Homo sapiens: one gene and its partners. The protein of the gene in region 4 interacts with the protein of the main gene of each other region in a pairwise test. Each region holds a gene or a part of one and is shown on either strand. Other genes may lie near its edges.

Region 1 (8,312 bases), on a different chromosome or scaffold from region 4:
GCTCTCAGAATCAGAAGAGCAGCCTCCAGGGAGGGAGCAGGGCTACAGGGACAGCCTACGGGCAGTGGAGCTTCTGGTTTGGCACATGGGAAAGGCTGGGGCGCATGCGCTGAAACATGACACCATCAGGGAAGCCAGAAAGGACAACATGGACAAGGCCATCGATCTGAACCCCCAGCCAAAATGGGTGCTCTCGGCTTGCTCAAAAAGTGCTGCCAGCAGCGATAGGTTGGCAAATTAAAAGCAAACAAATAGAGGTCACGGCCACACAAAGGCAGTAACTGCACTCACAAGGTGGCTCAGCCCAAAGAGGTCTGAATCTGAATATGCCGCACTGTCCCTGCCCCGGGGGAGAAGGGGAAGGCTGGGCCCTGGGAACTAGAGATGATGGCATTCCTTTCATTCCTTCCTGAGGCGGGCCTGGAGGGCTGTGCCCTGGTGACTCCTGTCTCCTAAAGGAGGGCAGGGCCGGCTGAAGGATCCAGGCATTGATGTCTAGTTCTGAGGACACCCAGGACCCGCAACTACAAGGGCCATCTAAAACGTGGCCTGGAGGGGATGGGGGCAGGCGGGCACAAAACTTCTGCTCAGCTCACTCCAGCTCCCCACGTGCTCATCTGTTCCCCAGATCTGGGGCTGCCTAGTGAGCCGTTAAACGCCTGGGTTCCGCCCAGGGCTGCCTTCCACCGGGACGCCGGGCCTGCTGTGGCTGGACCCTACAGGAGACAAGGGAAGGAGAATTAACATCAAAGCTGGTAAAGTATCCTGTCAAAACCAAGTGCCAAATCCTCTGTGGGACAGGAAGGGGCAGCTAAGACAGGTGCTTCGGGATGCCTTGGGAAGTATCAGAGCAGAAACAGGAGCGACTGGTTAGCAGATGGTCAGCCAACAGATGCCTTCCCTGGGAGACGGGGAAGCTGGGGCTGTGGATTTCTGGCCCCGAGGGTCCCAGGTCATTATGCTGAACAAGAGGCACCTTCCCGGGACGATACAGCACCCTGTGCTGGAAGGAAGCACCATTTTCCACAGTGGAGGAGTCTCATGACCCCTCCTGTCTTCCAGAAGGATGGAAGGGAGCGCCCACCCCACACCCCTGGAGAAAAATGCCCCCCAGCCTGGGGAGCCATGGGCTCTGCTCCTCCCTCAGCTGAAGGGCCAGGAAAGGGAAGTGAAGGGGCAGGGAGAGGGAAGATATTTACCTTACGTGTGCTCTGAAAACAAAAAACGCGCACTAGTCCACAGTCATTTATCAACTGCAGTTTCCAACTGTGCCAAAGAGGGAAAGGTCTACTGGGAAGGCTAAAGAGAGCAGAGAGAGAAAGAAGAGGAGAAGCTATTGAGCAGAAATGGTTGTGCCTCTTGGCTCCGGGCAGCACCATGGAGAGGGCCGGTGCCCCGGGCAGGGGAAGCTGAGGGAGAGCTGGCAGCTGCAGTGCTGGTGCTGCGCTGCCCCACAGCCTGCGGCTCAGGATGGCAGAGAAAGCCAGGAGCACAGCATGGAGGGCTGCACAGTGTGGGGACTGCCTTTCCCTCGGCAATACAGTTCCATGAAGAACTGACGTGGAGGACCTACCCAGGATTTGAAATAGTAGGCCAGGGGTCAGACAACTTTTTCTGTAAAGGACCAATATTTTTAGTTTTTGTAGGTCATATAGTCTCTGTCACAGCTACTCAGCTCCACTGCTGTAACTCAAAGGCAGCCATAGCAATCTACAAACAGATGTGTGGGTTCTCATAAAACTTCATTCTCAAAAATAGGCTGCTAGCCAGATGTGGCCCTTGCACCACTATTTGCCAACCCCTGCTGTAGGCAATTTAAAATTATTGTGTCTTCCAAGTCTCAAAAAAGGCACTTCTCTGCTGGGCGTCTAGTGCCAAGGTCTCCAGAAACTGGTTCTCATCTGCATGATTTAAGCAGTGCCCCACCAAAATCTCCAGGTGTGCAGCGGCCCTACGCTCCTCCGGACAGTGAAGTGCCAAGCTCACGGGACAAAATGCAGGACAACCCGAGTTCAGGCAAGAAACAGAAAGACAGCAGGCCAGCCTCACTGAAGCAACTGTCAGGTTGTACTTAAGTGAAAATAACCAACATTGTGTCTAGAGAATAATCCATTACAAAGAGGAAATGACCCACAAAGCCACTATCAACTATTCTCTTACAGGACGGCCCAGTGAAGATTATTTAAAAATCTCCGGGTGTGCAGTGATGGGAAGAGCATTATTTTGGGATTAGGTCTGTATCTTCACTACAACACGTGCAGTCTGAGTAGCAGTGAGCCAGAAAAAGGCTCACATGTGGGAGAACCAAAACCAAAAGACTCCCATTTTTAAAACCTTGGCCTCTGAGACCCCAGTGTAATGTGACAATGTGAACTTCTGTAGAAGGGGCACCCCATACAATAAGAAACCATCACAGTGGGTAAGCACAGAAGCCTCAACAACCCTAAAAGGTGCGGCACTAGCTACTCGTCCAGCTACTTTGGAGGCTGAGGCAGGAGGATCACTTGAGCCCAGAGTATGAAGCCAGCCTGGGCACCATGGCAAGACCTTATCTCTTAAAAAAAAGTGCAGCACCATCCTTAGAGAGATCTCTTTAGGAAGAGATGCAACCCATCCCCAGATCCAAGACTTAAGCAGCACGACCTCACCCGCTGCCTTTTTGCCAACACCCAGATCTGGAGCCCACAGGGGCTGAAGCATCCACATGGCCCAGGGTGGGATTTCTGTCCCTTGCACCTGCATGTGACCTCACAATTCAGAAAGGACTATTAGAAAAACATGTTTGTGCTCTCGAGTGTGGGTCTGAGCAGCCACAGTGGCTCCACGGGAGGCCTACAGGAAGCAGGTCAGAGTCCCTGGGCCTTCTCTCTGGCTCTCATTCCTGCCCTGTAGAACAGGCAGAACAGCTAGCAGCCCTCTGGCCACGGGGAGGTTAGCAGAGTTAGACATGGAAGCTCCTAGCACAGTGCCTGGCAGAGGAAGTGCTGATAACAGCTTGTCTTCCTCGTGGTGGGGCAGGTGGGGGTGGGAGGAGGCAAGCCTGCAGCTCCCTCCACAGCCCCACCAGCTCTTCCAGGAATCTCAAGTTCAGGCATATCTCTGACCCCAACCTTAGGAACGCAATCAGAATTAAAGTATCTTCTTGAAAAACAAGAACAAGAAACCCTTCACCACTCCTACCCACAGCCTACACTTCAGACTCTTTCACCTCCCTCCTTGCAGTGTGGGGATGGGGTTCCATATCCCACAACCTTTAGTTCGATTTGCAAAATTTCTTCCAACACAATCTTCCTGCTCGCAGTGGAGCACTGGATGGGCCACGCTTAAATATTAGTATGAACTGACCAAACTCTTCACAAATGCCCTTCTAGTGTCTAGGATGGTGTCTGCCAGCCACACACCCTCTAAGCCAGGGCCACTGCTGACTCAAAGTGACCTAAACTTAATCTTAAATGGCCAAAAGAGTGTCTGAACTAAAACTTATTCCCACTTCCCAACAAATCTCTGATTAAGTCAATCCATTCTAAGACGTCCTTGAGAGAAATACCGACTTACTATACTCTACTCTAAATACCAGTTAGTCTATAGTTTGGTGTCATCCATGCTATTAAAGACAGCAAGAAGTTCAAGTTGAATAATGAATTAAAAAAAAAAAAAGCAAGAAGGGGGTTGGGCACAGTGGTTCATGCCTGTAATCCCAGCACTTTGGGAAGGTGAGGCAGGCGGATCATCTGAGGTCAGGAGTTCAAGACCAGCCTGGCCAACATGGTGAAACCCCATCTCTACTAAAAATACAAAAATTGGCCAGGCGTGGTCGTGGGCGCCTGTATTCCCAGCTACTCAGGAGTCTGAGACAGGAGAACTGCTTGAACCCAGGAGCCGGAGGTTGCAGTGAGCCGAGATCACACCATTGTACTCCAGCCTGGGCAACAGAGCAACAGAGTAAGACTCCATCTCAAAAAAAAAAAAAATTATTTATATATAGATATATATATATAAAGAAGGGAAAAGGATGGGGAGAAAAGAGAGAAAAAAGACAGAGGGTGGGGGGGCGGCGAGAGTGCAAGTCTGTGTGTGTGAGCTCACGGCCCTCAGGTCCAGACACCATGCACGATGTACCACTTGGCACTCACCTGCCGCTGTGGTGGTCTTCTCACCAAGGAGCCTGGTCTGGCTGCCTGGAATAACCTGCAGGTCGGTGTTCTCAGGGGACTGTGGCAGGTTCTGGGCTCGGGTAGCCAGGAGTGCATTGAGGTACTGCAGTCGCGTAACCTGGAGGATGACAGCGTTACTGGGACCCAATTGGTGAAGCGAGATGCAGAAGGTAGGCAGGAAAGGTGACACCGTGCCCGAAGAGGACAGAGGCACAACTTTAAGCTAGTTAAGGGCAGAGAAGAGCAACTGAGTCAAGTGTTTTTAAGACCTTGCTTGGAAACTGGGTGCAAAGGTCTGTGTCCCTCAGGATGAGTGGAAGGCCTTGTTCCGGGCAGTCTCAGACCAGCTGGTCTAGCCCCCGGTGACACAAAGTCGGCTAAAGCCAGCACCCACAAGCAGCCCAGGCAGTCACCTTGATGAGCTGCAGATCAGAGAGCGCCCTCACGGTGTAGTCGGGACAATACGCAGATGAATGCGTGCCGTCACCTGGGTCGGGCTGCAGGTCATGGCGGATGGGCTGGAGCGAGGACACCGGGGACTGGTGAACTATCAAAGGAACAATCAGTGATGGCAGGAGCCATGCTGGCAGCTGGGAGCCTCCTCCCCTGGTGGGGACAACTGTACAGTTTCGAAGACCCACCCCACCAATCACTCTGGAGAGGCAATGTGCATGGGAAGCTGGGAGAGAAGGACAAACACAGCCGGGAGAGGTTTTGCAGGGGTGGAGTGGGCCACAAAGTTGAGCGATGAAGAATGCTGCCCTCCCTCCTGGAAGCCCAGGGGCTACACCACCTTGTGGGGTGGTGGGCTCAGGTGGAAGGAGAGGTGAGGAGGGGCACTGAGAGCCCAAGTGATGATGGGGGACAGGCTCTGCAGCCTCCACCCTGGCCCTCAGCATCAGCAGGGCCGTGGCTTACCCGAGGATGGCACAGTTAGGGCCGACACTCCATAGTACGTGAAGGCCCCATTCTCAAACTTCAGACCCTCTTTCCCGATCTCCACTTCAACCCTGCCCTGGGAGGAGTGGCAAGGAGAGAAACAGATGCGGCCAGATTACCTTTCCCGTCAGAAGACAGCGGAAGGAGAAACCCACCACCTCAATTGTTTGGGGTGGGAGGGTGCATATCCGCATGCCCCTGCTCCCCTCTTCTCCTAGACCCTTCCCTGGCCTGAGGAAGCAGGAGGGACTCCAGGCCTGGGACCCACAGCTACCTGCAGGATGAGAATGAAGTAATCCACCGGCTGGCTGCGCTGGTACAGGTAGTGGTGTGTGGCCAGCCGGTTGCTCTCGTCAAACCTCACTTCCTGGTTGACACTGGGATGCTTCAACAGGTGCAGCAGGACCTTCTCAGAGATGCGCAGCGGGCTGAATACATCCACTTCTGCACGTGGTGGAAAAAAGGGACAGTGTCCACTGGGGCCTAGTGGCCAGTGGAACCACACCCAACACTGTAGGCAATTTAAAGTTATTGTGCCCACCAGGGATCTCCCGGGTGGCCTGTGAGCAGCTGCCCCTAACACCTCAACACAAGAGAACTAGGCAGGGGCCAGGTGCGGTGGCTCACGCCTGTAATCCCAACACTTTCGGAGGCTGAGGCAGGTGGATCACCTGCAGTCAGGAGTTGGAGACCAGCCTGGCCAATATGGCAAAACCCCGCCTCTACTAAAAATACAAAAATTAGCTGGGCGTGGTGATACACGCCTGTAATCCCAGCTACTTGGGAGGCTGAGGCAGGAGAATCACTTGAACCCAGAAGGCGGAGGTTGCAGTGAGCCAACATCGTGCCACTGCACTCCAGCCTGGGTGACAGAGCGAGACCCTATCTTTAAAAAAAAAAAAAAAAAAAGAACTGGGCAGGGCACCCCACATCCGCCCAGCTGAGAGCTGAGGCCCCCTGGCTGTGGTGCACCAGGCGTGGCACTGGCCTGGCCCTGCTCTTGGTCATCTGGCAGAGAGGAGGTGTCTCTCCCATGACCCAAGATGCTGGCAGGGCTGCAGAGAACACAGAAGTCCTCAAGACGCACCCGCCTGCTAGGAGTGGGGAGCAGAGTCAGTGTCGGCCCTGGGCGGCCTCCTGACCCACAGAACGGTGAGGAGAGCAGGGGGCATGGACCACCCTCCCGCCTCACCTCGGGACAGGAAGCGCTGGGTGGCCAAGAGCAGCTGAGGCGAGATTGTTACTTTATATTCATCATCAGACACCTTGAACAAGGAGAACTCCTCCTTCCGCTTCAGAGGGGCCATCAGAGAAGCAGGCTTCCTCTTCACCACGGTGTCTCCTAAGATGGAAGAAGAGGGCGCGCTCAGGCATCAGCCACCTGTCAGTCAACACGACCACACTAAGGGGCTGCATCGCCTGCTCCTTCCTCCTGAGGCCAGGGGGTCCTCGATGGAGCAGCATCGGAACGCCAGGGACATGTCCTCAGCACCGCTCCCTCCACGGGGCCTGCTCCCACCCCAACCACACAGAGAGAGGGGTGACTATCTGCCTTGGAGCTGGCTGAAGAGAATGCTGATATGATAACAAAGCAGCTTGTATAAAATAACAAGCATCCCTGATAGGTCACTGGATGTAGACTAAAAACTTTTTTAAATTTAGGCCAGATGTAGTGATTCACACCTGTAACCCTAGCACTTTAGGAGGCTGAGGCGGGAGGATCACTTAAGGCCAGAAGTTCAACACCAGCCTAGGCAACATAGAGAGACCGTGTCTTTACAAAAAAATAAAATAATTAGACGGGTGTGGTGGCATGCGCCTGTAGTCCCAACTGCTCAGGAGGCTGAGGTGGGAGGAACACTTGAGTCTGGGAAGTTGAGGCTGCAGTAAGCCATGAATGCGCCACTGTACTCCAGCCTGGATGACAGAGCAAGACCGTCTCAAAATAAAAAAAAAAAATTAAAAAATAATAACAGCCTCTCTGGCCACTGAAAAACTTCTCACTATAAAGCATGTATTCAAGGATTACCAATGCAAATGGGCAGCAATTAACCTGGAGACCCCATGCCTATGGCAGTCTCAAGAACGGAACTAGAGATGCTATGTTTGAAAATCGACGCATGATTAAAGCGATACTTCTGGAAGCATGCAGGGCAGGCGGCCCGGCCATGACGCACAGACTCTGTACAGCCCTGCAGACCTCAGCCACCATGCTAACAGGCGGACACTTTTACCATGCAATCAAGGGCACGGGATCAGCTGCTTTGGGAAGACTTATTTCCACCCCCTCCAGTCTCTCAGGCTGGAGCGCAGTGGCGTGATCTCAACTCACTGCAACCTCTGCCTCCTAGGTTCAAGCGATTCTTCTGCCTCAGCCTCCTGAGTATGTGAGACTACAGGCACGCACCACCACGCCCAGCTAATGTTTGTATTTTTAGCAGAGATGGAGTTTCACCATATTGGCCAGGCTGGTCTCGAACTCCCGATCTCGTGATCTGCCTGCCTGGGCCTCCCAAAGAGCTGGGATTACAGGCGTGAGCCACTGCGCCCAGCCAGGAAGACTTTCTTCATGGCAAACAGTGGGTTCTTTCAGGGGACATTTCTGTAATGTACAAAAGAACCTGCAAAAACAAAAGCACCTAGGGAGACAGAAGACTGGGAAAGGCCCATGAAGGGCAGAGCTCTCTCAGTAATGGAGGAAACTAATAGGACTGCTGCTAATGGAGCCCCAGGTGAGCCCTGGGATTGCAAGGCCACCGCTGGCACAGGCAACCATGCTTGTGTGGAGGTGCAGGCGTGAGCCCTCCTGCAAGGGGGCTCTCTGCCAGCACCCATGCAGGGCTCAGAAGGGGGCCTGGCTGTGGATCTTGCTGGGTTCCAGCAGCACAGAGGCCCACTGGCCTCTGACGCAACATACGCCTGGGGAAGTGTGCAGGCCCAGCGGAGACAGAACTGCCAAGAGTCTGGACTCACGGTAGTCTTCAGACTCGTCCAGGATCTCGGACCTGATGATCTCCTCGATCACGTCCTCCAGGGTGACCAGGCCCAGGACCTCGTAGAAGGGGTCGCCTTCACCCTCGTTGTTCACCTTCTGCACGATGGCCAGGTGGGACTTCCCTGTGGGGGGAGGACACTCATGGAACAGCTTGCTGGGCCCCCCCCAGTTTGATTCATCTCCCCTGGTATAGGCCCACCAAAAGGACACGGCTAACGTTCATG
Region 2 (9,059 bases), on a different chromosome or scaffold from region 4:
CCTTAGATCAGGCAGGTGGGGCCAATCCTTAGTGAAGTATCCCAGGGCCTTCTGATTCCAAGGGTCACCACCACATGGATCACAACAGATAAATGAGTGCCCTCCCACCCTGCAGGGGGCCTGCAGTGAGGTCTGTGTGAACACACAGCCACCTGCTGGCCACAGTTGGGATGGCCACAGGCTGGGCTCAGACTTACTCTTGGGCTTTGCTGGTCATAGGGGGCCTGCCAGAGTCCTGTGCCAGGCCTACCTATTGAACCCAGGTGGTAGTCTAGACACTGGGTGTCAGAGCCCCCACAGGATGCCACTCTCATGTGCAGGATCTACAAATCATTTTATTGAAATTGAACAAATAACACAACAGTCTTCCTAAGCTAGGGGCCATCCTCCCCAAGCCATTTCCCACATTATAGAAGCACAGAGCTTGCACAGTACTTAAAAAAAAAGTCACCTCTATATAGAAATCAGACTCTGCCACGACATCATCATGGACTATTTACAAACCTTCACATTATAAGTATTCCTTTTATGGTTTTTCCCTCCTTTCTTTCCCTACCCAGGGGTTCTAGTGCTTTCCCTTGACTGATCCTGAAGGGGTGGGGGTTACTGTAAGGGAGGGGGTGGTAGGCTACTCATAACTACTGGCACCAGCCTTAGGGTGTTGTCCCTTACCACAAGGTGGTGAACAGTCCCCTCCCAATTGGAGGGGTGGAGGATTTGGTGCAAAGCCATGGAGATTAGACAGAATAGGTGGGTTGGAGTAACTCCCCATAGGCACAAGCATCCGCAGCCTGTCCTGACCCCAGCCTGCACTCTCTCAACTCCTCAACTGGGGGTTCGGGGTTGGGGGGCAACAGTTAGTTGCAGTAGGGGGATCAGCCCAGCCCTGGGTAGAGGGAGAAGCCCCCACCCAGTCCCCACTCCTATCAATAGCCAGCAAACTGTCCATCCATCTGAAGGCGGGAACAAATGGCAGGTAGGTCGGAAGAATCAGGCTGGCACTGCCCCCAGCCTCTGTCCAACACAGGAGGAATCGAGGTAGCAAACGGCTGAAATGCTCTGACTAGGGGTTAAAAGGGAAGTGAAGGAAAGGAAGTTCCTACTTGTATACAGTGCCCACAGCCTAGGGGCTGGAAGAAAGCATACCTTGCTTGTAAAGTGCTGTAGCCTCTAGCAGGGCTAGGCCCCAGGCAAACTTGGAAGAAAGCAGACCAGGCAAGGAACCAGGTAACGGGCATTCCTGACTGGTATATGCCCTGCTGTGCTGCTTGCAGGGGTGGCTTGGGAGAGTGGGGTGCTAACTCTGCCATTAGCCTTCACCACCCACCAACCACCTCTTGTCCACACACAAACCAACACCCAACCAATACTGTGGGACCGACCCGCTCACAGCTGAAGGTTATGGGCCAACAGAGTTTATTCAGGGTTGTGGCCCCAGCCTGGGCTCCTCAATGGAAGCCACACCTTGATTGAGCCTGGGAGTTTCTTGCCGGGGCAGGGGGTGCTTCTGTCTGCCACCTCCCAGGGTCACACCTCATAGAGGATCACAGGGAAATCCACGTGGATGCGGGGGTGATCCAGCTTCACGATGCCCTGCCATGGAAACAGAGGCTAGTAAGGGTCAGCTCAGGGCCTCTACTTCAGGAAGCTTCCTTGTTCCTCCCAGATCCCCCCGCAAAAGCCCCCACCATGACAACAGATCCCATCTGGGTCCACCTCCACACGCTTAGTGTAGGCTCTGTGACCGCTGCCCAGCCCCTCACCTGAGGAATCAGATTCTTATGCACTCGCCTCAGCTTGGCCCGCTTCTGCCCGTTCTTGGTGACGATTGTCTCCTCATAGAACTCGTGAGCCAGATCCCCATCCTCATCATAGAACATAGAGCTGTGTAGAGGGAGAAGGAAACAGGCTGGGCTGGAGCCCCACACCTGGGCATGGCAAATGTCACAGGTCACGGGGAAGTCTGTGGTCTTCCCAACCCCAAGTGGGAAGAAAAGAGGATAATATGCCTGGAGAATCCTTTTTTTAAAAAAAATTTTTCGAGACAGAATCTCACTCTGTTGCCCAGGCTGGAGGTGCAGTGGCGCGATCTCAGCTTGCTGCAACCTCTGCCTCCTGGGTTCAAGCAATTCTCCTGCCTCAGCCTCCCAAGTAGCTGGGACTACAGACATGCACCACCACACCCTGCTAATTTTTTGTATTTTAGTAGAGACGGGGTTTTGCCATGTTGCTCTGGCTGGTCTCGAACTCCTGAACTCAGGCAATCCACTCGTCTTCATCTCCCAAAGTGTTAGGATTACAGGCGTGAGCCACGGTGCCTGGCCTGCCTGGAGAATCCTTTGCCTGGGGTTTGGGGTCTACTAGAAGAAAGTGGGAAGTGAGGTGATGGGTGGGCAGTGCTACTATGTCAGACCCCCAAGAAGAGAGCCCACACCAGAGCACACCATCCAGGCAGCCACCAAGGCCAGTTCTCATCCTTGATTTGTTCAGCAAGGGCAGCCATTCTAATATCAGGACTTTGCCTTCACCCAGGACTTCTAGAGTGGGCAGGGTGGTGGCCTGGGCATGTTGGTCTCACTCCAGAAGATGCTGCTGGCCCAGTGTCAAAGACTGAAATAGCAGAAGCCTAAGCTAGGAAGAAGCACAAAGGAATGAAGGCTGCGTCTCCCCTGACCCCACACCCCAGGTGGCTGGTGAATTGCCACTGTTGGGTCTTCCTGGTGTCTACAGCCAAATCTCTAGCACAGGGAGCGCCCATCTCCAGGAGCCCACTAGAGCCAAGCCAATCTGGTACTCTTGTGCGGGCCTCTGGGAGACTGGGCTGGGGGTTGGGTGGGTAGGTCAGCGCTCTGGATCTGGAGAACATAACTGGGTGAGGGTCTTTTTTCCTCAGCCTCACCCCCAATACTGAGGCCTATCCCTGCTTTCCCAGCCACTACGCTCAAAGGTTCAGCCCCACTACTGTCAGGAAAAGCAGCCTAAACAGAGGGTTATTATCCCCTTGGAATAACTGGGGGGGAAAGGGAGGCTAGGACCCTTCAGTATGCAGGCTGAGCCGGAAGGGATGAAAGGAAGAGATCTTATGGAGGTCTTATGGAGGCCCTAGCTTAGCTTTACCGTGCGGAAGGTCCGACCAGTGACAAGCCTCAGGCCCACTCTTCCCTAGGGAGACTTTCAGAGTGGCCAGGCCGCCAGGAGACCACTGCCCGGCTTTCTCCACCCCCAGCTCCAATGAGGCTCAAAATATGGGGGTCGTCCTGGCTTGGCTGTAGTGGGGTACAGCGGTGGAAGTTCCCCCGTGGCGCGGGACGCCTGGCCGCCCGCCTGTTCCCCCCGCCAGGGTGGAACCCATGCCCTTACCCGCGGCGCGTGAATACGAAGGGGGGCACAGCTCGGCCCCGAGGCCGCACCAAAGCTTGCTCAGCTCCTGCTGCCTCTGAGCCGCCGCCTCCGGCCGCCGAGGCGAAGGGCCACAGGCCCCGAGCTTTGGACCCGCTGGCGCCCATGTCAGGGCCGCCGGCGCATGGCGGGCCCCGTGGCCGCTCTGCTCACACCGCAGTCCGCACTACCATAACCTGCCCCAGCCGCTGATCGCAGGTGCCGCCGCCGCCGCCTTCCGCAGGCTCGGCTGTCTCCACGGAAACCTCACTTCCGCTTCCGCACGCTGCCACCTCTGATTGGCTGTTGCTCAAGTCGTGGGGGCGGGACCAATGGGCGCCCTTAGATGCTGGGCATCCCAGCATGCGTTGCGAGATCCCAGGTCCCAGCAAGCGCGATCTGACCAGCTGGGACAGCTCCCACCGAGGAAAGTGGTGGCCGTGAGTCCTCCCGGTCTTTTGGGTGTATTTGGCGGCTCTGACGTCCCCCAACACCTGAGTTCAGGCCTAGCAGGACTTCGCAAGCACCAATCCTCAAACCTGCACTTCAGGGCCTAAGGCCAGACCGCCGGGTGCCCATCTGGCTTCTATTTTCACAGCTGTATTTTTGCGATTGCCACGCTTATGTGAACTAACCAAGTTGAAAGAAAATTAAGGAACTGGCCAGATTCACATAGTTACATTCAGTTCTGAAGAACTTCGAATTCAGTGTTTTCAAACCCAGCAGAGTCCATGCTTAATGAAAGCAAGAATTGTTAACAGCTATACCCTCGGTATCACGAGCAGTGTCTGGTCCACGGTGGCAGCTCTGTATTTGGTGAAGGAGTTATGCCACACCTTCTCCCAGAGCGTGGTGTGTGTGTGTTGAAGGGATGGTTTTGTTTTTTTTTTTTTTTGAGATGGAGTTTCACTCTTGTCGCCCAGGATAATGTGCAGTGGCACGATCTCGGCTCACTGCAGCCTCTGCCTCCAGGGTTCAAGCGATTCTCCTGCCTCAGCCTCCCGAGTACTTGGGATTACAGGCATCTGCCACCATGCCGGCTAATTTTTTTGTATTTCTAGTAGAGACGGGGTTTCACCATGTTGGTCAGGCAGTCTTGAACTCCGGACCTCAGGTGATCCACCCGCCTTGGCCTCCCAAAGTGCTGGGATTACAGGCCTGAGCCACTGCGCCCGGCCGTTTTTTTTTTTTTTGAGTTGGAGTCTTGCTCTATCGGAGTGCAGTGGTGTGATCTCCACTCACTGCAACCTCTGCCTGCCGGGTTCAAGCGATTCTCCTGCCTCAGCCTTCTGAGTAGCTGGGACTACAAGCGCCCACCACCACGCCCAGCTAAATTTTTTTTGTATTTTTGGTAGAGATGGGGTTTCGCCATGCTGGCCAGGCTGGCCTCGAACTCCTGGCCTCAAGTGATCTGCCCACCTAGCCCAACCAAAGTGTTGGGATTACAGGTGTGAGCCACTATGCCCAGCCAGTTTCCCTAAGTTCTAACTGCAGTCCATTTTTGTCTCCACCACAACCTGAGCCCCAGGGAGCTGAGTGATGACCAAGTATGTATGCATACTACATCTTCACAAATTGGTCCATGGTGACTTTGCAAGACACCTGGGAGCCTGTCCATCACCCTTGGCAACTTCTGGCACCATGAGGGGCAACTGCAGCTCTGCGCCTATAATAATAAAGAGTCCAGGCTGGGCAGGGTGGCTCACACCTGTAATCCCAACACTTTGGGAGGCCAAGTTGGGAGGATCCTGGGCAACACAGAGAGACTCATGTCTCTACAAAAACTTTATATGTATAAAAGATTCCAACAGCAGGAGGATCTTGAAATCTTTATTGAGCCAATTCTCTCAGGCCCCAGGCCCTGATGATGACTGTCACCCCAACCCCTTTCCCCACAGGAGGCATTCAGCTGAGGCCACCACACATTACATACATTCACGCACTTCATAAAAAACACCTGAGGGAGAGACCCTGGCTTTGATTAGCAAATAAGGTATGAACCTGGGCCAGTGCCCACATTCACACAGACCCTGGCCCAGGGACATCCTCCTCATATGAAGCATTAAGGCACATGCTGTACTGTGAGCCAGCACTCCCTGACCTCAGGGTGTGTGAGGAGTTGGCACTGTAGAGAGAAACCAAGACTCTTCCTCAATGCCTGCCTTATTCTGAGCACCCACCCTTAGCTCTGATAAGGATATCCTGAGACCACATTCAAGATCCAAAACCTTTCCTCATAGATGAGGGCCGTCACCCCTGCAAACATGACCCTGTTCTGTTTGCAGGGTCTCCAAGATTTTCACTTCTGAGACAAAAATTGAGGAGACTTCTGTCTGCACCACTCCTGCTGCAGGCCTGGAGCAGCTTCTCAGGGCAGCCCTGGCCCACTAAGGCCCAGTAATGAGGGCAGAGGGGTGCAGAGCCATACCTGGCTACACCCACAGGTGGACACAGGGAGCAAGCTACTTCGCTGTTCTCTGGGCTCATTCCCCCAGCACAGGAGGGCCTCCATGCACACTCATTCCACAGGCCCCACTGGCCCTGTCACACTCACACGGCACGCACTTGGCGCTGCCTGCTGTCTGCCTTCCACCTGGGGGTACAAGAGGTCACCCAAGGGGGCAGGCGTGCAGGGCCTCTTGGATCTTCTGGCGGCAATAGGAGTACTTCTGCAGGATCTGGCGGAGGTGCTCCTCCTCCTCCCGCTGCAGGATACGTAGGAAGTTATGTAGTTCAGGCATGCTGAAGGCGTCCCACTGCAAGGGGCAAAAGGGGAGTGTACAGGCTGCAGAAGGGATGGCCAAGCCAGCAGACCCTCCCCAGAGAAGACTAGCACCTCATGTTCACACAAGCTAGGACTGGGCTTTCTGATGTCAGGCTCTTGGCTGAATGATCTCTGGTAGGATCCCTGACAGCAGTTTGTATGGAAGATGGGCCCTACAAAACGGTCACCTTACTGAGACAACCAAGTCAGATGTTCCCCAATTACCTGTGGACAGGTCAGGCATATTCTGAGTCTAATTTCACTCCACAGGCCTAATACCTTGGAGCCAGAAAGCTTCCAGGTAAAAAGTCTGAAGGGGGCCTCCTCATGTCATTAGATGGACTCCTGCATCTCCAGAAGATTTTCCACACCAGGAAAGATCAAAGCACCAAGGCAATTCTTCCTGGCTTCTTGGGACAACCCTAGGCTTTGGCATGAGTGGTCTGGAAGCCTTTGCTTTAGTTACAATGCCTATACACTCCTGGAACTGTTTTGCAGGGCTTGTCTTCCAGCACAATTCCTCCTCCAAGCCTTACTGTAGCTACAGCCCATCAGTCCTGTCTAGTGACAACCAAGAAACTAAGAACTATGTACTCACGTTCACCTCCCCAGAGTCATTTTCCTTCAGGACAAAGCTCAGGGCCTTGTCACTGGGCCCTGCCAGGAGCCGCAGCCGCAGGGGCTGCTCATCATCCAACAGCTTCCGCAAGTACACTGTGAAGGGGAAGTAATGATCAGAGACAGGGCCAGCTGCTCAGCCCCTGCATGCTCAGGTGCATGCGTATATACCCTCACATAGGGCAGGGTGGGGTGGGAAGCCCACCTTGGCCGTGACGCTCAGCGCGCTCAAAGAGTGCAAACTTGCGGGGGTCATCCACCACCAAGAACTTTCGCAGCAGGGCCTCAATGACTTCACGTGCCCTTGTGCGTGACAGCACATGCAGGTGCTTGACAGCATCCTTGGGCAGGTAAAAGGAAGTGCGGCGCCTGACACTTGTGCCCCGTCCTGGGCCCCGCCGGGCATCCTGCAAGGAGGGTGGCTTCTTGCTGGAGGGCACAGAGACAGGGCGCACCAGCTTCAGCTGAACCTTGATGAAGCCTGTGTAAGAACCGTCCTTGTTCTAAAGAAATAGAGAAACCAAACCTTGATAATAGGTTCCAGGTGAGATGTCAGTCTACTTGGGGCTAGGCTGGGTATGCACAAATTACTGCTTGCGCCCACCCAAGATAACCTCAGTTGTGACCCTCTGAGTATCAGGCACATAGCTGGGTACCTGCTCCTCCCCACGCCCCCTTCCTGAGCAGTCAACTCACCAAGCTCATGAAGAGGTTGCTGTTGATCTGGGCATTGTACTCCTTGATCTTCTGCTCAATCTCAGCTTGAGAAAGGTCAGGTGTCTCCCACTCCACAGGCTCGTCCTGCAAGATGGGCCAGCATGGACACAGGGCCCTTGAGGAACCCAGGGCTTCTCTGAAAAATGGCCTCTGGGGCAGTCTTTGGAAACTGACTGCCTTTGGCCCCCTGTCCCTGATGTACATATACATAGCTGGTGCCCACCCTGAACCCACCACTGCTCCTGGTTTTGCATGCTCTGGGTGGATAAGGGAAAGACAGAATCATTTGGCTTCTCTCTGCTGCCTGCCTAGGGCCTCAGCACTGAATGTAGCCTTAAGGATACCACAGAAGCAGGGGCAACTGAAGGCACATGGCCAGGGGCCAGGAACAGCTGAGGGACTCTGAAGAGGGACTCTCATTTAAAGTAAAATCAGGCTGGGTGTGGTGGCTCACATCTGCAATCCCAGCATTTTGGGAGGCTAAGGTAGGAGGATCACTTGATCCTCAGGAGTTTGAGACCAGCTTGGGCAACATAGCAAGACCTCATCTCTACTAAAAAAAGAAAAAAAAAAATTAGCCAGGTGTGGTGGTGTGCCTGTAGTCCCAACTGTTCAGGAGGCTGAGGTGGGAGGATCGTTTGAGCCCGGGAGATTGCAGCTACAGTAAGCTATTATCGTGTCACTGCACTCCAGCCTGGGGAACTGAGTGAGACCCTGCTTCAAAACACAAAAAACAAAAACAGGCTGGGCACGTTGGCTCACGCCTGTAATTCTAGCACTTTGGGAGGCCGAGGCGGGTGGATCACCTGAGGTCAGGAGTTTGAGACCAGCCTGACCAACATGGAGAAACCCCGTCTCTACTAAAAATACAAAATTAGCCAGGCGTGGTGGCACATGCCTGTAATCCCAGCTACTTAGGAGGCTGAGGCAGGAGAATTGCTCAAACTCGGGAGGTGGAGGTTGCAGTGAACTGAGATCGTGCCATCGCACTCCAGCCTGGGCAACAAGAGCGAAACTCGGTCTCAAAAAAAAAAAAAATCAGTAAAATCACACCTCAATTGCACATTCTGATCACAGCACCCTAGTTGAGTTGGAGTGAGGGTTTGTCCTGGAGAAGGCAGCCCATTTTTCTCCTCTGCCCCGGCACGGGGCCATGACCCACTGCAGGGTGAGAGGAGTGGAGAGTGGTGCACATCAGTAGTCCAGCCACCAGTGGACAGAGTAGTACTTGGAGCCAGTTCTCCATGTCTCACACATAGTGAGAAAAATCACTGTGACATGATGTTTAACCTTGACCCAAGCTGCATAAAAGGCAGCTTTAGGCCAGGCTCCAATCTGCCAGAGGTACACAGGCAGCTTCCTGGTGGGTTTCTGCACCTGCCTGTGCTGTCTGGAGATTTGGCCCAAAGATTTTTTTTTTTTTTGAGACGAAGCCTCACTCTGTCGCCCAGGCTGTAGTGCAGTGGCTGGATCTTGGCTCACTGCAAGTTCTGCCTCCTGGGTTCAAGCGATTCTCCTGCCTCAGACTCCCGAGTAGCTGGGACTACAGGCGCGTGCCACAACAACACCCGGCTAATTTTTG
Region 3 (6,217 bases), on a different chromosome or scaffold from region 4:
CATATAAGTTATAATTGTATTTGTGGGAACTTCCTGAAGCAGAGAATTTGTGTCTTTGTTCAGCGTAATGCTTGGTATATAATAGGACCTCAATAAATTTTTTTTCAATGAAAGACTAAAACAAAATTTTCTGAAGCAAATATATAAAAAATGCACTTATGAGGGGATTTAAATCTCTTAAAACATGTGATAGGTTATATATTTAAATTTTCTTTGCACTTTGTTTTCTATTCAACAAAATATCAATAAAACATATGAAACAAACAAAAAGTGTACCTAAGGAAGACAGTTGAAGATATGGGATGAATTCACTAAATGTATCATTTTTACTTATTTATTTATTTATTTTTTGACACAGAGTCCCACTTTGTTGCCCAGGCTGGAGTGTAGTGGCATGATCTCAGCTGACTACAACCTCCGTCTCTCAGATTCAAGTGATTCGCCTGCCTCAGCCTCCTGAGTAGCTGGGATTATAGGTGCACACCAGGCCTTGCTAATTTTTGTATTTTTAGTAGAAATGGGTTTTCACTGTGTTGGCCAGGATGGCCTCAAACTCTTGACCTAAAGTGATCCGCCAGCCTCAGTCTCCCAAAGTGCTGGGATTACAGGTGTGAGCCATCATGCCCAGCCTAAGTGTATTGTATTAACAAAATAAAATGGAATGCCAGAATTCATGCCAAAGAAATAAGCTTATTTAAAATATTGTAACTATTTGAAATATATTTGAGTGGAAGAGTTCTGGGAAAATAATGAGAGAAGGATTTTAGAAAGATGATAACAGAAATGATCCTGAGCATTGGCACAAAAATTGAAATTCAAGATATATCTCCTGTCAGATTTAGGAAGGGTCCTAGGTCAAGATTAATTTGTCCGTGTTCAATCATATACTTCCAAGAGGGCTAGGATGCTGAGTCCTACTGATGTAGATGGTCAACAATCACAGATATTGGACAGGCTGAGTGTTGCAGTTCCATAGAGTACAGAAATAATCATGAGAGAATGGAGAATATTCAGTAAGATGATCCAAAAAGGCGAGACCCAAAGGCTGGTTAGTAACAAGTTGCCTGGAAATTCCTGGATGAAAAGGTAGTTGGGTGGTAGAAGCTGGACCCACAGTCCAGAGATTGGAAGCCAGTGCTTCCACAACCAAGAGATCCAAGGCCAGTGTTTCCACATCCAAGGGATCTTATGTAGTTAGTCTGGCGGGGACTGCAGAAGATGGAATTCTTTGGGCAGTAACAGGATGTCTGATAGGATCTGGCCAAAGTGCAGGATGTCTGGCAGCTGGTGGGCTCACAGTAGGTCTCCTGACAGCCATTGTAGAGAGAGGAGCCCAGTTGGCAGGTATTTGGAGAATAGATGGCATTGCTGGGGTAGAACAAATTATAAGTGGAAACTGGATACCTCAGGTAACTTCCAAAACAGCAGGAGGAGAAGTTTCCAGAGCTGCAGTTGTAAGACATGTTAACAGGAGTTCTGAGCTCAGGTGATTTGCAGTGAGGAGCGTGTGTGTGTGAATGTTACCTTCTATACTGGACACTGACATACTCTAGCAATAGGTGTAGTCACAAGTGCCCATTCTAATGAGAACACTTAATTAGGCTGCAGTCAAAATGAAATATATTAACACTCAAAGAATTTTATTTATGAACGTAGACTTCTACATGAAAGAATTTCATTAGTTTTTCAAAGCAATTGTTCATGAAACAAAAATGCCATTTCTCATTCATCTTGCTTAGGTAGAATGAAAACCACCATAATTGTACCTATAAGACTGATGCTTCAAAGGGTCGGGCGCGGAGGCTCACACTTGTAATTCCAGCACTTTGGGAGGCTGAGGCAGGCATATCACGAGGTCAGGAGTTCCAGACCAGCCTGACCAACATGGTGAAACTCCGTCTCTACTAAAAATACAAAAATTAGCCGGGCATGGTGGTGGGCGGCTGTAATCCCAGCTACTCAGGAGGCTGAGGCAGGAGAATTGCTTGAACCCGGGAGGCGGAGTTTGCAGTGAGCCGAGATCGTACCACTGCACTCCAGCCTGGGAGACAGAGCAAGATTCCATCTCCAAAACAAACAAACAAACAAAGAAACAAAAAAACAAAGAAAAAAACTTGATGCTTCATTCATCCTGTCCTTCTAGAAATTGGATCAAACGGCTAAGACACTGAGAGTTCTGGTATTTGTAAAGATCTGAAAAATACCTTGTAATCTGGAAGGGACTTTGATCTTGCTCCAATTTTATAAATTCAATTGAGAACAGAAAAAAAATTTCAATATCTATTCCTTCTTTCAATTCTTTGAACCATTAGAAGAAATAACCCAATAACAATCCTTATTTGGTAGACATGCTAAATGAGTGCCTAACATATTTAAGTTTAGATTTCTTATAACACAAGTAGCTAAGTCACTCTTGTGCACATGAAGAGTTAAGAATGAAGGGTGAAATTTTTGAACAAGTGCTTTGAAGTTTACATTGTAAAACTACTAAAGAAATCCCTTACTCAAAGGTTGATTTGCTTCTTCATAGAAGTCATCAATAAGTTTGATTATAAAAAACCGTTTATCCCCATAAGGTATAAGTAATTTTTGGTCATGTTGATGTTACTGAGAGGAAAATAATAAGCACTATAAGTAAAATGTAAATCGTTAATCTTTTCCTTTCTTTTCTCTCAGAGGGTGACATTTTTACCAGAGAGGGAAAAGAAAAGCAAGAAATGAGGGAAATGTCTATCCCATGTAGTATTCACAGAAAGATAAAATATGTAAAGAATTCATAGTAACAAATGACTTTATAAATTGAAATAAAGGGGTGGGAAGGATACATGATGATAATGTGTAATTGAGAGTGAATGCCTTTGTGACCTCTGATGTATCAGCTGACATATATATTCTGCCTAGAGTACTAGAGTAATGAGGATTTTTCTGGATTCGCTCAGAAAGTTCATCAGAGCAAACTGTAAATAGATATATGGCACGGATGCAGGAAATGCCTTAACCTGTGGGAATGGGCAAACCTCTTAAGACATCCATCTTCAGAACTGATGTATTCTACAATGGAAGTGAACTGAGACTCCCTTCTATGAAGAATCAGGATTACTAGGTAAAAGTTTTAGGGGAAGATTCAGCTAAAAATCTAAAATGAGTTGCTCTTGCAATTAATGATATTTCCATACTGAGGGCCCTGGGAAAATCTAATTAGGATGTTGTAAGTGGAATTCCAATCTGACAGGAGGCTGGAGATAATTGCTCAACTTCCTTCCAAATTGTAGACTTTATAAGTCTAAACTTTTGAGGAGACAAATTGATCTCCAATCATGTTTCATTTATTAAGTAACATAGTTTGTTCTGTGTTTCTGGAATAAACAATTCTTATTTATTAGGCTTCTCAATTATTAATAGCCAAAAAGCATTCTAGTAGATTCCAAATCTTCCTGTTGTGTTTGTCAATAAAATATTGAATATCAAAATAGCCACACAAATATTTAGCCCGCCTAAATTGAAGTTGCTTTCTTGTTTTAATGTCATCCATTCCTATATAAGCAATTTCAGTAGAAGAATACTCTGAGGGATCAGATATTAAGTAATGTCGCACATTCTTTTCTCAAAGTATGGATTTTTTTGCATTCAACTACTTTCATTCAGAAGTGGAATGGAAACTTTTTTCTAAAAATGAGCAAATCAAACAACACAGAAACCACAGCAAGATAAATCTCAATCTCTCCTCTTCCTCAAGATATCAGTCTCATTACACCATTACATCAAGGTGAAATACAAGTCACAGAACAAGAGAAAATATGACCATTATTTTAGAAGTGTTGTAATACCTGTCAGAAACACCTGAAAATAATTTACGTCAAAGTCATGTATGTTATTTTTGAGGCAAAGGAAGAATCTTCCTAAGATGCTGCCTTTGTCTCACCATCTCAAAGCAGTTACTTTATAAACTTTCTTTAAAACAGGAATCTTTTCCAGATTCTGGGGAATTCTTTTAGTGGGAAACACTGACTCTGATTAGAGGTAGAAATACACTAGGCATCTTTGACACATGATCTGTTTTTATTTTTAATGCCTTTTAAGCATCTTAGATGAATAATCTCGACCATTCCAAAATACATAAAGCAATTTATTATTTTTAATTCACTCAACAGTAAACACACACCCAAGGAAAGAAAAGCTAAGATTGGCTCCTAATAGTCTGCATACAGTTTTAAACAGGAGCACAGAAAATAAGGGAATCTCAGTTAATATTTCATTAAAGCTGTTCCAGTTGAAGTTTGATTTTTAAAAAGACATTATATCTTGCATATCACCATTGCTGCTTTCTGATGACATTCTTCGTTAAGTTAGCTTGCTACTTTGCGGTGACAGTGAATGTATGTTTTTGTTTGAAAGAAATGACTATGAATAGATTGGTTAGCTGGCAACTTTGTGCACCAGATGGCAACAATTTTGAGACAGATTGTGAAATGGGTATCAATTATTTTTAATTAAGGCAGCTTCCCTCAGCCCAGACACTGTCTACCTCTAAAGCGATTCTCTGAGTTATCTGAAGAGTGACCTTTGGTAAGGGAAGATGAGTAATAGCTTTAAAGAGTCAACACTATTAACTGAATCCCAAGGCACAAACATTACTGCACTTCCTAGCTGTAAAATCACAATAAATACATATGTCTGACTATGATTATCTTTTTAATTCATTTAAAGTTGGCAGGTAACCTATTTTATGTGCCATGTGGATGACACACCCAATGTTAAGGGCATATAAGTCCCCAGGTCCAAGAAGTGACATTCAAAGTCACAACCTTGTCATTGTAAGTCAACTCTCTCCTACAACTGCTACTCTGGAAACTTCTCCTCCCGCCCTGTGGGGCATAACTGCGCTACCCAGGCTTCTCTTGTGGCTCTTCCTACCCCAGCAAACTGGTCTACAGCACTGACCTCTGCTCTCCCAGCACCTGCCAGCTGGGCTCTTCTCTCTACAGGGGCTGTCAGGAGACCTGCTGGGAGCTCCGCAGGTGCCAGACATCCTGTGTAGTGTCCAGCACCTGCCAGATCTCCTGCTATTGCCCCAGAACCTCTATACTCTGCAGGCCCTGCCAGATGACTTACTCTGGATCTCTGGGCTTTGGATCCAGGGGCTTTCAATCTTTTGGCTGTGGCTCTCCATCCCTGGGCTTTGTATCCAGTGTATTCCAATCCATGGGTTATTGTCCCATTGCTTTCACATCCCTAAATTATAGACCCAACTTTTACCACCCAACCTTCTATTCTTCTAGTAGCTGCCAGTCTGCTTCTTACCATCCAGCCTGTGAATATGACTTTTAGTAATTATGTTTGAGGAACCAGAAACTTAAACACAATACCTACTGTGTCCATATCCATATATCCATACCGTCTATTGCTCTCCTATCCTATCATTTGCCTACGAATTTGATTTCTACTGTTACCCATGATAGATGAGGAATAATCTGAATTCCAGTAACTAGAAAATATTCACTGGAGCAAGATGTCAAAACTGCTTATTTATAATTATATAGATATGCAATATCAAAGCACACTTCTCTTACTGTATCTCCTAGTTATTTCCCCTAGAGTAGTTGCTTTAAATTTTACAAAGTGAAGAACGTAAGTTTAAATAAAACTGGGTAACATTACATGTGCATATCTGCTTTAATATTCTTTGCTTACTTTTTGTCTTAAAAACTACTAAATATCTGGCTAGGTTTTTCTGTGTTTTCTACTAAAGACACTTGCGCACGAATGTTCATTGTAGCATGATTCAGAATAGCGAAGATGTGGAATCAAGATAAATGGCCATCAATGACAGATTGAATAAAGAAAATGTGGTACATATATACCATGAAATACTATGTAGCCATAAAAAAAGAACAAGATCGTATCTTTTGTGGGAACATGGATGGAGCTAGAGGCTATTCTCCTTGGCAAACTAACATAGAAACAGAAAACCAAATAGTGCATGTTGTAAATTACAAGAGGGAGCTAAATGATGCGAACACATGAACACACAGAAGGAAACAACAGACACTGGGATCTACTTGAGGGAGGAGGGCGAGAAGAAGAAGAGAAACAGAAAAGATAACTACTGGGTACTGGGCTTAATACCTGGGTGATGATATAATCTGTACAACAAAATCCCCGTGACACGAGTTCACCTATGTAACAAATCTTCACATGTACCTTTAACCCTAAAATA
Region 4 (8,312 bases):
TCACTCATCCTTTCTCCTAACTTGCAAAGACAATTGGCTACACTCAAACTGTGATGACAACTCAGAAGATCAATATCTGCTGTAACTATTAGGAAAGAAAGGCAACCCAATGCTTTTTATTAACAAATTATGATTGTACTTTACGTTTGCCTAGTACTTTACATACACTATATCTATTTAATCCTCAGCCCAATCCTGGGATATTGTTTTATTTACCTCTCCTAACAATCAGAAAGTATTATTCCTATTTTACAGCTGAGAGAATAGGAGCACAACCAAGTGAAAAAAATTTTTTTCTCTTAAAGGTCACAAAGCTTGTCAATAATTGGCAGAATTATCGACAGGATTCTCAGTGACATCTTCTAGCCTGAAGCCAAAGTTCTCCACAGCAGGCCACCATCTACCCAGCTAAGTTGCAACACCTGGTTTTCTCACTCTCCATCCCTGGCACAAATAGAGCAGGTGCTCAGCAAATACGGCAGTCTGATTCGGGGTCAATCTCAACTAAGCTGCAGAATCTCTTATATGTCCTTCATATGGGGCCAAGTTTTTCTGACAACTTTGACCACCATCACCTCCCCGGAACGACAGCTCTTTTAAGGCAGCAACCAATTTCCTTCTTCTCCAGGGTCTAGCACATTGGGTGCTCGTTTAAGTTCATTAAGTTCATATATTTATGGAGAATTGAGAGTTCAAGTGTATGTGTGTTGTATAATCAAACCACAGAACATTCTTCCTTTAGTGATGGCAACGAGTGCTTTTCAGCCACTACCATATAAAAACAGTAACCAAAAGAAACATTTATAAAAAACCTCTATGGCCTACAACAAAGACTAGCCTTCAGGGCCTTTCCAATCCTCAAATTCTCCAATTCCATTATATTCTACACCTGATAAGTAGTTAAACTGACCACCTTGAGTACCAATTCTGAGTACAATGCAAGTGGGTTTGTCCGTGTAGACCCAACACAGTGTTCTTAGTCTTGCCGTATGCTTCCAGGTAAGCAAGTTGTATGTGACGGTCAAGTTCCCAGTTCCCAGAGGGAATGGCAATGGATAATAAGGTTGACCTGAGCCATAGTGGACTTGCTCTCCTCAAGATGCTGTGTCGTAAAAATGAGCTATATTAAGATAAATCATGCTGACTTTTATTTTCCTCAAGAATACACTGCTGGCTGCTTGGATTTTTTTTTTTTTTTTTTTTTTAAACTTCAAATTTGTGTTGCTGTGAACAGCTGGGCAAGTTTTTACCCTGTCATGGAAACTATCTGGCCATTTTTGCACTGTTCTGTATGCTGGGAAGGGAGGTGAGCAGAGCTTGCCAGAAAAGAGTTCTAAGCTCAGTTTCTATGCTCTCCTGTAACTTCAGGGACTTGTGAATGTCCAGTTTGTTCCTATTTGTTGCTTTTGTATAGCATGTCGTAATCTGGCTACAACCTTCCTGGCTACCTATTTCACAGGGCTGTTGTAGGAAATTCAGAAAAAGTTTCGTGGTCCTGTTAAAAAGAGCATTCAGCAAAGAATTGAAAAGGTAAAGTTAAGTATCACCAGCATTACATTTCCTGCCTGAATTAATCTTTTCAAAGAACTCTGAGATCTGAGGCTGGCAAATTCACTAAAAAGGCAAAGAATTACTTTAGGTTATTTTTACTAAATCAGGCATCCTAAAAATACTCTTTTTTGATGCCTTGATCAAGAGAGAAGAAATTTCAGAGAGAAGAGGCATACAAATGCATCTACAGTTCTACAAGTAGCCCAATTTCAGTATCAATTTATCCACTCACTATAATAAATATTAAATATATACAATATACAAAGTATTAAGCTAGATACTATAAGGATGAAGAATTATGTAAAAGATGTTCCTATATCCTCCTGTACTACAAGTACACTGTAAGATGTAACTTTTGTTTAGATTTCCTTCCCAAATAAGCAAAGGTTTCTAGTTTCCCTGGGACAAAGAAGGTGAAAGAACAAAATAATTTTTTTTAATCTATTATGACTTTCTGGATTCATAGAAACATTTATTTTAGAACATTCAGGGAGACTTATCTGTTAGTTTCTACTGATGAGTACCAAGAGTGACTGAACTACAGAATGGCTGTGACTTCCAAAGATAACCTGATTAAATCTGACATGCACATGACATGGGGGGAGCAAGGAATCCATGTGTCCTTCAATTTCAATAAGAAGAGTTAAAATGTACTATCGAAGGAAGAAGATCACAACCGTGTGGTTTAGAAAGCAGACCAAAAACAACAGGACAGAAATATTCCAAATAACTTGGAATCCAAGTCACTTGGGTTTCCTTGAATGCCCTGCCATATTAAATCACATATGGCTCTGCAATGAAAGGAGAAGTTAAGGCCTGTCTCATGCCCCACTTCTGCCACTGACTGAGCTTGAGAAAGCAAATTCAATCTTTTAAAGTTATTCAGGGAAAGGCAGAAATGGTAGTCTGGACATATAATGAAATAAGCTTATTAATGTGGGGTAGAAGACGTCTTGAGCAATTAGCCAGTGTCCTTATCCAATTAAGTTGGAAAAGAAAGCCCCAAATTTCCTTAAAGTTTTACTGGTATTAGTTTGCTAGACTGACAGTTCCAATATATACATTCTTTGTATGTGTTTACTTTTCCCCCTAGAGTTATGGCTAAACTGAATAGAACCAAATTCCCAAGATCTGCTTCTTTCTCTTTTAATATCCTATTTTTCCAAAGCCACCGAGCTGATGTCCTTCAACAAATGGATTAAAGTAAATGCTGAGAACCAGCTCTCGTGTCCGAGCAGGGGGGAATGAAGGGTTTATACCCAAGGCAACTAGGGGCATACTCATGATGGTCAATATAACATTAAGGAAATCTGTAGTACATCAAATGATATTCTGAAGTTATGGTTCTATTCAAGCTGAACCATCTTTTGGGAAGCCAATCACAAACAAGATTGCTGTATTTGGAATTCTGACACCAAGAACGCCTAGGCAACCTCTTCACAGAAATGGAAAATAAGACTCAGCCAGCTCCATGTCCCATGGTGTAACCTCACATGCAGCACATGAACAGTTCTTAGTTATTATTACTTTTGAATGAAAAGTAGATCGACTTACATGGCTCTCTGGCAATGAACTGAGGTACAGTGTTGGGCAGAGGAGTACTGGGGTTTGGAGTCCCTACGAGTTTGTTCTTGGCCATCTTCGTGTTTGCCTTAGCAAACTCTAGTCGTAGTGTTTGCGGAATTTCAGGATCGAAGCGGATGCCCTTTGGAAACAGAGAACAAATGGAAGATGTTTTCATTTCCTTTGAGTCAAACCGGAATGGTGACAAAATAAACACACCAGTAAACCCTGGTCTATCAGGAAAAAAGGTCAGCAACCACTCTCATTCTTACTACTTACACAGGTTACATGAAAAATGACAACACAAAGTGTCCCGAAAGTCAGTGGGATTTAGTTTAGTTAAAAAATGTAGTTACACAGATTTTCAACTATTCCTTTTCTTTTTAGACAAAAACTTTTCAGTTTAAAATTTGAACCAGCAAATTCCTAGCACAGTTACACACTTTAATATATAGTAATTTCAGTTACCTCTGACCCTATTCCTGCAGTTTACCTAAAATAGATTATATTCAGTAAAACAAATCACAGACACTATGAAAGACACTAGCGCAAGACAAGTCTATTTGGAACCTTTCCACCATTCAAGAATGTCTTCATTATTAAGCATCCAATACCATGAATTCTGGACCCTACGTGTCAAAAAGATATCCCAAGAGAGTGTATTTTAAATGTGCACCCATGGGACCCACTCAGTTCCCATGTTTTCATGGTGTGGTCTGGAAAGGGACTGGAGTCCTGAAAACGAGTCTCCTAAGAACACAGTTGCCATTTAGTGTTCTGAATGTACACACATGGGCCTGAGGGCTCCAAAGCATCCCCCGCCCCCTCGCCACCATTCTTCCTAATGAGCTTGAAAAAAAATAAGAGCAGGCAGGGCGTTGTGGCTCATGCCTGTCATCCTAGCACTTTGGGAGGCCGAGGCGAGTGGATTGCCTGAGCTCGGGAGTTCAACACCAGCCTGGGCAACATGGTGAAACCCCATCTCTACTAAAATACAAAAAAAAAAAAATTAGCTGGGCGTGGCGGCATGCACCTGTAATCCCAGTTAGTTACTTGGAATGCTGAGACAGAATTGCTTGAGCCCATGAGGCAGAGGGTACAGTGAGCCAAGATCGCGCCATTGCACTCCAGCCTGGGTGACAGAGCTAGACTCTGTCTCAAAAAAAGAAATATCCACAAAAACAAGACTCTCTTACTCTAGAGACCAGGATGAACAACTCTGAACTTCACAGGCTCAGCTTCAAGTATACAAGGAAGAGCCTGTGGCTGGATGGTAATGGCATTAACAGGAAACAAGGGGGGAAGGGGAAGGAAAGAGAGGTCCTTAGGGAGGCCTAACAAAAGCCACAGAGCCCTGACCCAGAAGTCTTGGAGTGGGTGGAACTTCATGAGCATGACTCACTCATTCTGAGAAGAAACCAACTGAGGGCAGTAGCAAAAGGGATGTGGAGAATACCCTTGTGCATACCTAATCAACACCAAAAAGCGAACAGATAGTGCCTGTTCTGTGAAACATAAGAACATTTTCTTTAACTGATATTGTGTTGTATTTTTGTTTTTTAAATTTGGGAAACCTCAGTATTATTTTGAAGAAAAAGTATATAAGGAAAAACAAAAACAAAAAGCAAAGCTGCATTCTGAAGCAGGCTGGGGTGAGGTCACAAAGGACCTCACTGAGGTGGACCAACTTCCACCCTAACAAAGCTAATATTACAACAGAATTAATATTTCCAAGAATGGACCTAAGAACTGTGGTCTCTGCTGGGAGGCAAGCACAGTCCCTGGGTGTTACGTACAGGTATGCTGTAAAAGGACTTCCTCATTTGCACCACACTCCATCAGACACACATAGTAGCAACTTGCCATCAACTTCAGGACGTCCTCCCCGGCACTAAACTTGACCAACCTTCCTGTGAAGAAGCAACTTTCCTAAACCTGAGTTCACATTAACCTGAGTCCTGTGGCCCAGGCCACTGGGGATGATGTGAAGAGTATCCTGGGACCTAGTTGTGGTCTAGAGCATCTAGCCTCAGAAAATGAGGCTGCACATGTGAATTCTATGCCTCAGCTCTTTCACTGGTGTTCCAGAATCAACTGAAGCTCCACATCATGTGTTTGCCTCTTACACAACCTGGGCTGGCGGCTTGAGTCCTAAAACATGCTGAACTAAGTCTCCCCTACTCCCTGCCCCCTTCTTCATACCCGCCCCCCAATTTGAACTAAAATAACATCAACATCATGTTCCAAATCAAAGTTCCAGCATCCTTATTTAAAAAAAAAAAAAAAAAGCTCAGAAGTTAAAATGACCTAATTTGTTTGGCAGCTTATTCAGAGGCCGGAGGCTTAGAATACAAGCCACATTCCTCTAACATCTTTAGCAGCAATACCATATTTGGTAATCAATATCCTGCGCAGCTAAGTTTCCATCCATAGGGATTAGCCAAGCCAAAAACATTTTAAATGTTAAGGGATGATGAAGAGGAGAAAAAAGAGGGGCAGGAAAAGGGAGAACACAGAAACGAAGAGGGAAAAAAGAAAAAGAGGCAGATAGGAAGAAGACAAGAGAAAAAAATTCCTTGTGTTTTTAATTAAAGCCTACTAAGATTCTTCTCTGGCTACAATTACTCCACATTAAATGCTGTCAGGATAAGATTACTGCCAAGTGAAAGGGTGAACCTGTGTCTTTCAAAAGCAACCTTTTCCTCTCTTGCTCATAATTCACCGTTCTTCTCACAATGAACAGAGAACCTTTCTCTTCCAAATGTAAATGGTGTCCTATTTATTACATGGACCAGAAAGGACAGTTTCTGAATATTAGTATATTAATTTGAATATAAACAGTTACTTACAAGCACCCCAATCTGACTGGCTACTGGACAGCCAACAGTCTCTACAAATGCAGGTTCCATATAATCTACAGAGGCTGAATTCCCTACTCAGGGCAAATTCTGGGAGATCTTTAAAAGGACACTGCTGAGAAACAACATATTCTTGTTCGTCCAGTATACTTAAAAGTATACCAGGGCAGTTTCATGCCAGGGAGCCAGGGAAGGCACCAGAGGAAGTGATGAAGAGTAGAAGTTCACCAGGTGCAGTTCAGGAAAGGGCTCAGCAAATTTCTCTGTAACAGGATGCAGAAAGGGTGTTGGGGTGGGAGGGGTCAGGGGTGGGGTGGCTGAACAAGCAGACTGGGGAGAGATCACAAAGGACCTCTTATGCCATGACTGAGGACTTTGGAGTGTGTGCTCAGCTAAGCCATTAGGTTTTAAAAATGGGGGGGATAATATGATCAGCTTTATGTAGTAGGTCTGTGACCCTCAAATGTTAGCAGCATCAACTTGGAGGATTTGCTAGAGTTTCTGGTTCAGTAGCTCTGAGATGGAATCTGAAAATTTGCATTTTTAACAAGTTCAGGGTAATGCTGATGCTGTTTGTGTAGGGACCACATTTGAGAATCACAGTGATTGGCGGTAACTCTAGGGGTGGTAGGGAAGACAGACTCAATGAAGGGACTAGAACAGATCAGATATGAAACCATTAGAGCAGCCCTGGGAAGAGAAGCTGGGATGAGATGGCTACTGCCCTCTAAGCCTTCTTCTTTGGGAAGGGTACTCAGGGGCCAATGTCTGTGTTCTGTGCCCTTATTCCTCTGACCACAGCTGCCTATTTAAGGGGCAGCTGCAGCCTAAAGTGACAAAACCTGTTTTCTCTTATAAGGATTTCAACCTTGAGCCTATATAGAGACACAGAAAATGGTGTTGACCAAAGCTGAGTCACCGTAACAGCCTCTCACTAGAGAAAAAGTCTCCAAATTCCTGTCACTGAGGTCTTCAGAGCACCCTCATACCTGATACAGTCTTGGTTATGTGGTACAATAAACAGAGTACTTCAATTCTGTTAGCTTCAGGCTCCCAGTGTTGTTACAAATGGTTCTGCGCTAAAGTTAGTCCATCAGTCCTTGACAATGAGTTTTAGGGACAATGGAATGACTCATTTAGAAAAAAAATGCTTAGAAACAAAGCAGAGCTATATATACATATTGAGAAAGATGTCCATGGCTAGATTAGCCTGAAAAAAAAAAAAAAAAGATACTCAACAATGTTTGGTAGTATGGGGGTAGAGGAGACTGTATATACATCTGCATGTATACTTCTCTATCTGTGTAAGTCCAGAAAGGTTTAGAATGAGACAACCAACCAGTTAATAATAGCAGACAACTTAGTGGTAGGGGTGAGAGAGGGCACAGACTTTTGTACAATTTTGCATCATTTGAAATTTTTACAACTATGTATAATTTATAAAATCCAATACAGAATTAAAAACAAAAGGAGAGAGGTGGAATAAGGGATTTCCTACTGGGACACAGCATTCAACCAGCTATGTTTTTAAAAACTAGTTACTTTTAACAAAGAACTTTATTCTGAAATAATTTCAGACTTACAGAAAAATTGCAGACATAGTATAATTCCTATATACCCTTTGCACAGATTTCTTAGATGTTAGCATTTCACATTTATCAAACACACACACACACACACACACACACACACACACACAGTTTCCCCTGAACTGATTAAAAGTAAGTAGCAAGCATGCTATTCTTTTACCCTTTACTTCAGTTTGATTTCCTAAAAACAAGGACATCTCTTTGTTTTCCTGATCCAAGATCTAATCCAGAATCACACAGCACTTAGTTGTCATCACTTTAGTCTCCTGAAAGAGTTCTTCAGTCCTTACCTTTCATGAGCTTGATATTTTTGAAAACTACAAGCTATTTATTTTGTAGAGTAGCCCTCGATTTGGGTTTATCTAATTTTTTTTTTTTGGTTTAGATTCAGGTTACGCATTTTTTGGCAGGAAGATCAGAGATGGATGTCCTGCACAGTGCATAATATCAAGAGGCACATGATGTCACTTTTGTCCCATTACGAGTGATATTAGCTTTGATCATTTGCCAAGTTTCTCTATTGTAAAGATGCTGTTTTCCCTTTTTAAGTAGTTTCTTATAGACAGATATTTCCAGACTATATAAATATGTTGTTTTTCAAAAAAATCTACTAGTTTTAACACCTATTAATAATTATTACCTGAAGCAACTGTTACTATTGTAGTTGCCAAATGGTGCTTTAGTAATCTCATTGCTCCTCCCTGCTGCCACCAGACGGAGTCTTGCTCTGTCACTCAGGCTACAGTGCAGC

Evidence for each region.
Region 1: the proteins of RBPMS (region 4) and CNNM3 interact in binary tests that used the Homo sapiens proteins (3 or more experiments, as listed by UniProt).
Region 2: the proteins of RBPMS (region 4) and TUSC2 interact in binary tests that used the Homo sapiens proteins (3 or more experiments, as listed by UniProt).
Region 3: the proteins of RBPMS (region 4) and KRTAP15-1 interact in binary tests that used the Homo sapiens proteins (3 or more experiments, as listed by UniProt).

What each region holds. Positions count from the first base shown.
Region 1 is NC_000002.12:96,824,956-96,833,267, reverse strand, and holds part of CNNM3 (metal transporter CNNM3 isoform 1 precursor), read right to left. Parts: intron 8,211-8,312; coding exon 8,067-8,210; intron 6,436-8,066; coding exon 6,286-6,435; intron 5,538-6,285; coding exon 5,368-5,537; intron 5,170-5,367; coding exon 5,073-5,169; intron 4,702-5,072; coding exon 4,568-4,701; intron 4,273-4,567; coding exon 4,134-4,272; coding exon of another isoform or gene 3,976-4,133; exon of another isoform or gene 1,300-3,975; coding exon of another isoform or gene 1,250-1,299; exon of another isoform or gene 717-1,249; coding exon 652-716; 3' UTR 1-651. UniProt on the Homo sapiens protein: Probable metal transporter.
Region 2 is NC_000003.12:50,324,594-50,333,652, forward strand, and holds TUSC2 (tumor suppressor candidate 2), read right to left. Parts: upstream 3,631-9,059; 5' UTR 3,507-3,630; coding exon 3,361-3,506; intron 1,885-3,360; coding exon 1,764-1,884; intron 1,594-1,763; coding exon 1,528-1,593; 3' UTR 316-1,527; downstream 1-315. Other genes in the region: RASSF1 (ras association domain-containing protein 1), read right to left, coding at 5,988-6,134, 6,741-6,856, 6,966-7,263, 7,457-7,561. UniProt on the Homo sapiens protein: May function as a tumor suppressor, inhibiting colony formation, causing G1 arrest and ultimately inducing apoptosis in homozygous 3p21.3 120-kb region-deficient cells.
Region 3 is NC_000021.9:30,435,574-30,441,790, reverse strand, and holds KRTAP15-1 (keratin-associated protein 15-1), read right to left. Parts: upstream 1,517-6,217; 5' UTR 1,464-1,516; coding exon 1,050-1,463; 3' UTR 922-1,049; downstream 1-921. UniProt on the Homo sapiens protein: In the hair cortex, hair keratin intermediate filaments are embedded in an interfilamentous matrix, consisting of hair keratin-associated proteins (KRTAP), which are essential for the formation of a rigid and resistant hair shaft through their extensive disulfide bond cross-linking with abundant cysteine residues of hair keratins.
Region 4 is NC_000008.11:30,499,230-30,507,541, reverse strand, and holds part of RBPMS (RNA-binding protein with multiple splicing), read right to left. Parts: intron 7,010-8,312; exon of another isoform or gene 6,832-7,009; intron 6,267-6,831; exon of another isoform or gene 6,024-6,266; coding exon of another isoform or gene 5,964-6,023; intron 3,363-5,963; exon of another isoform or gene 3,257-3,362; coding exon 3,106-3,256; intron 1-3,105.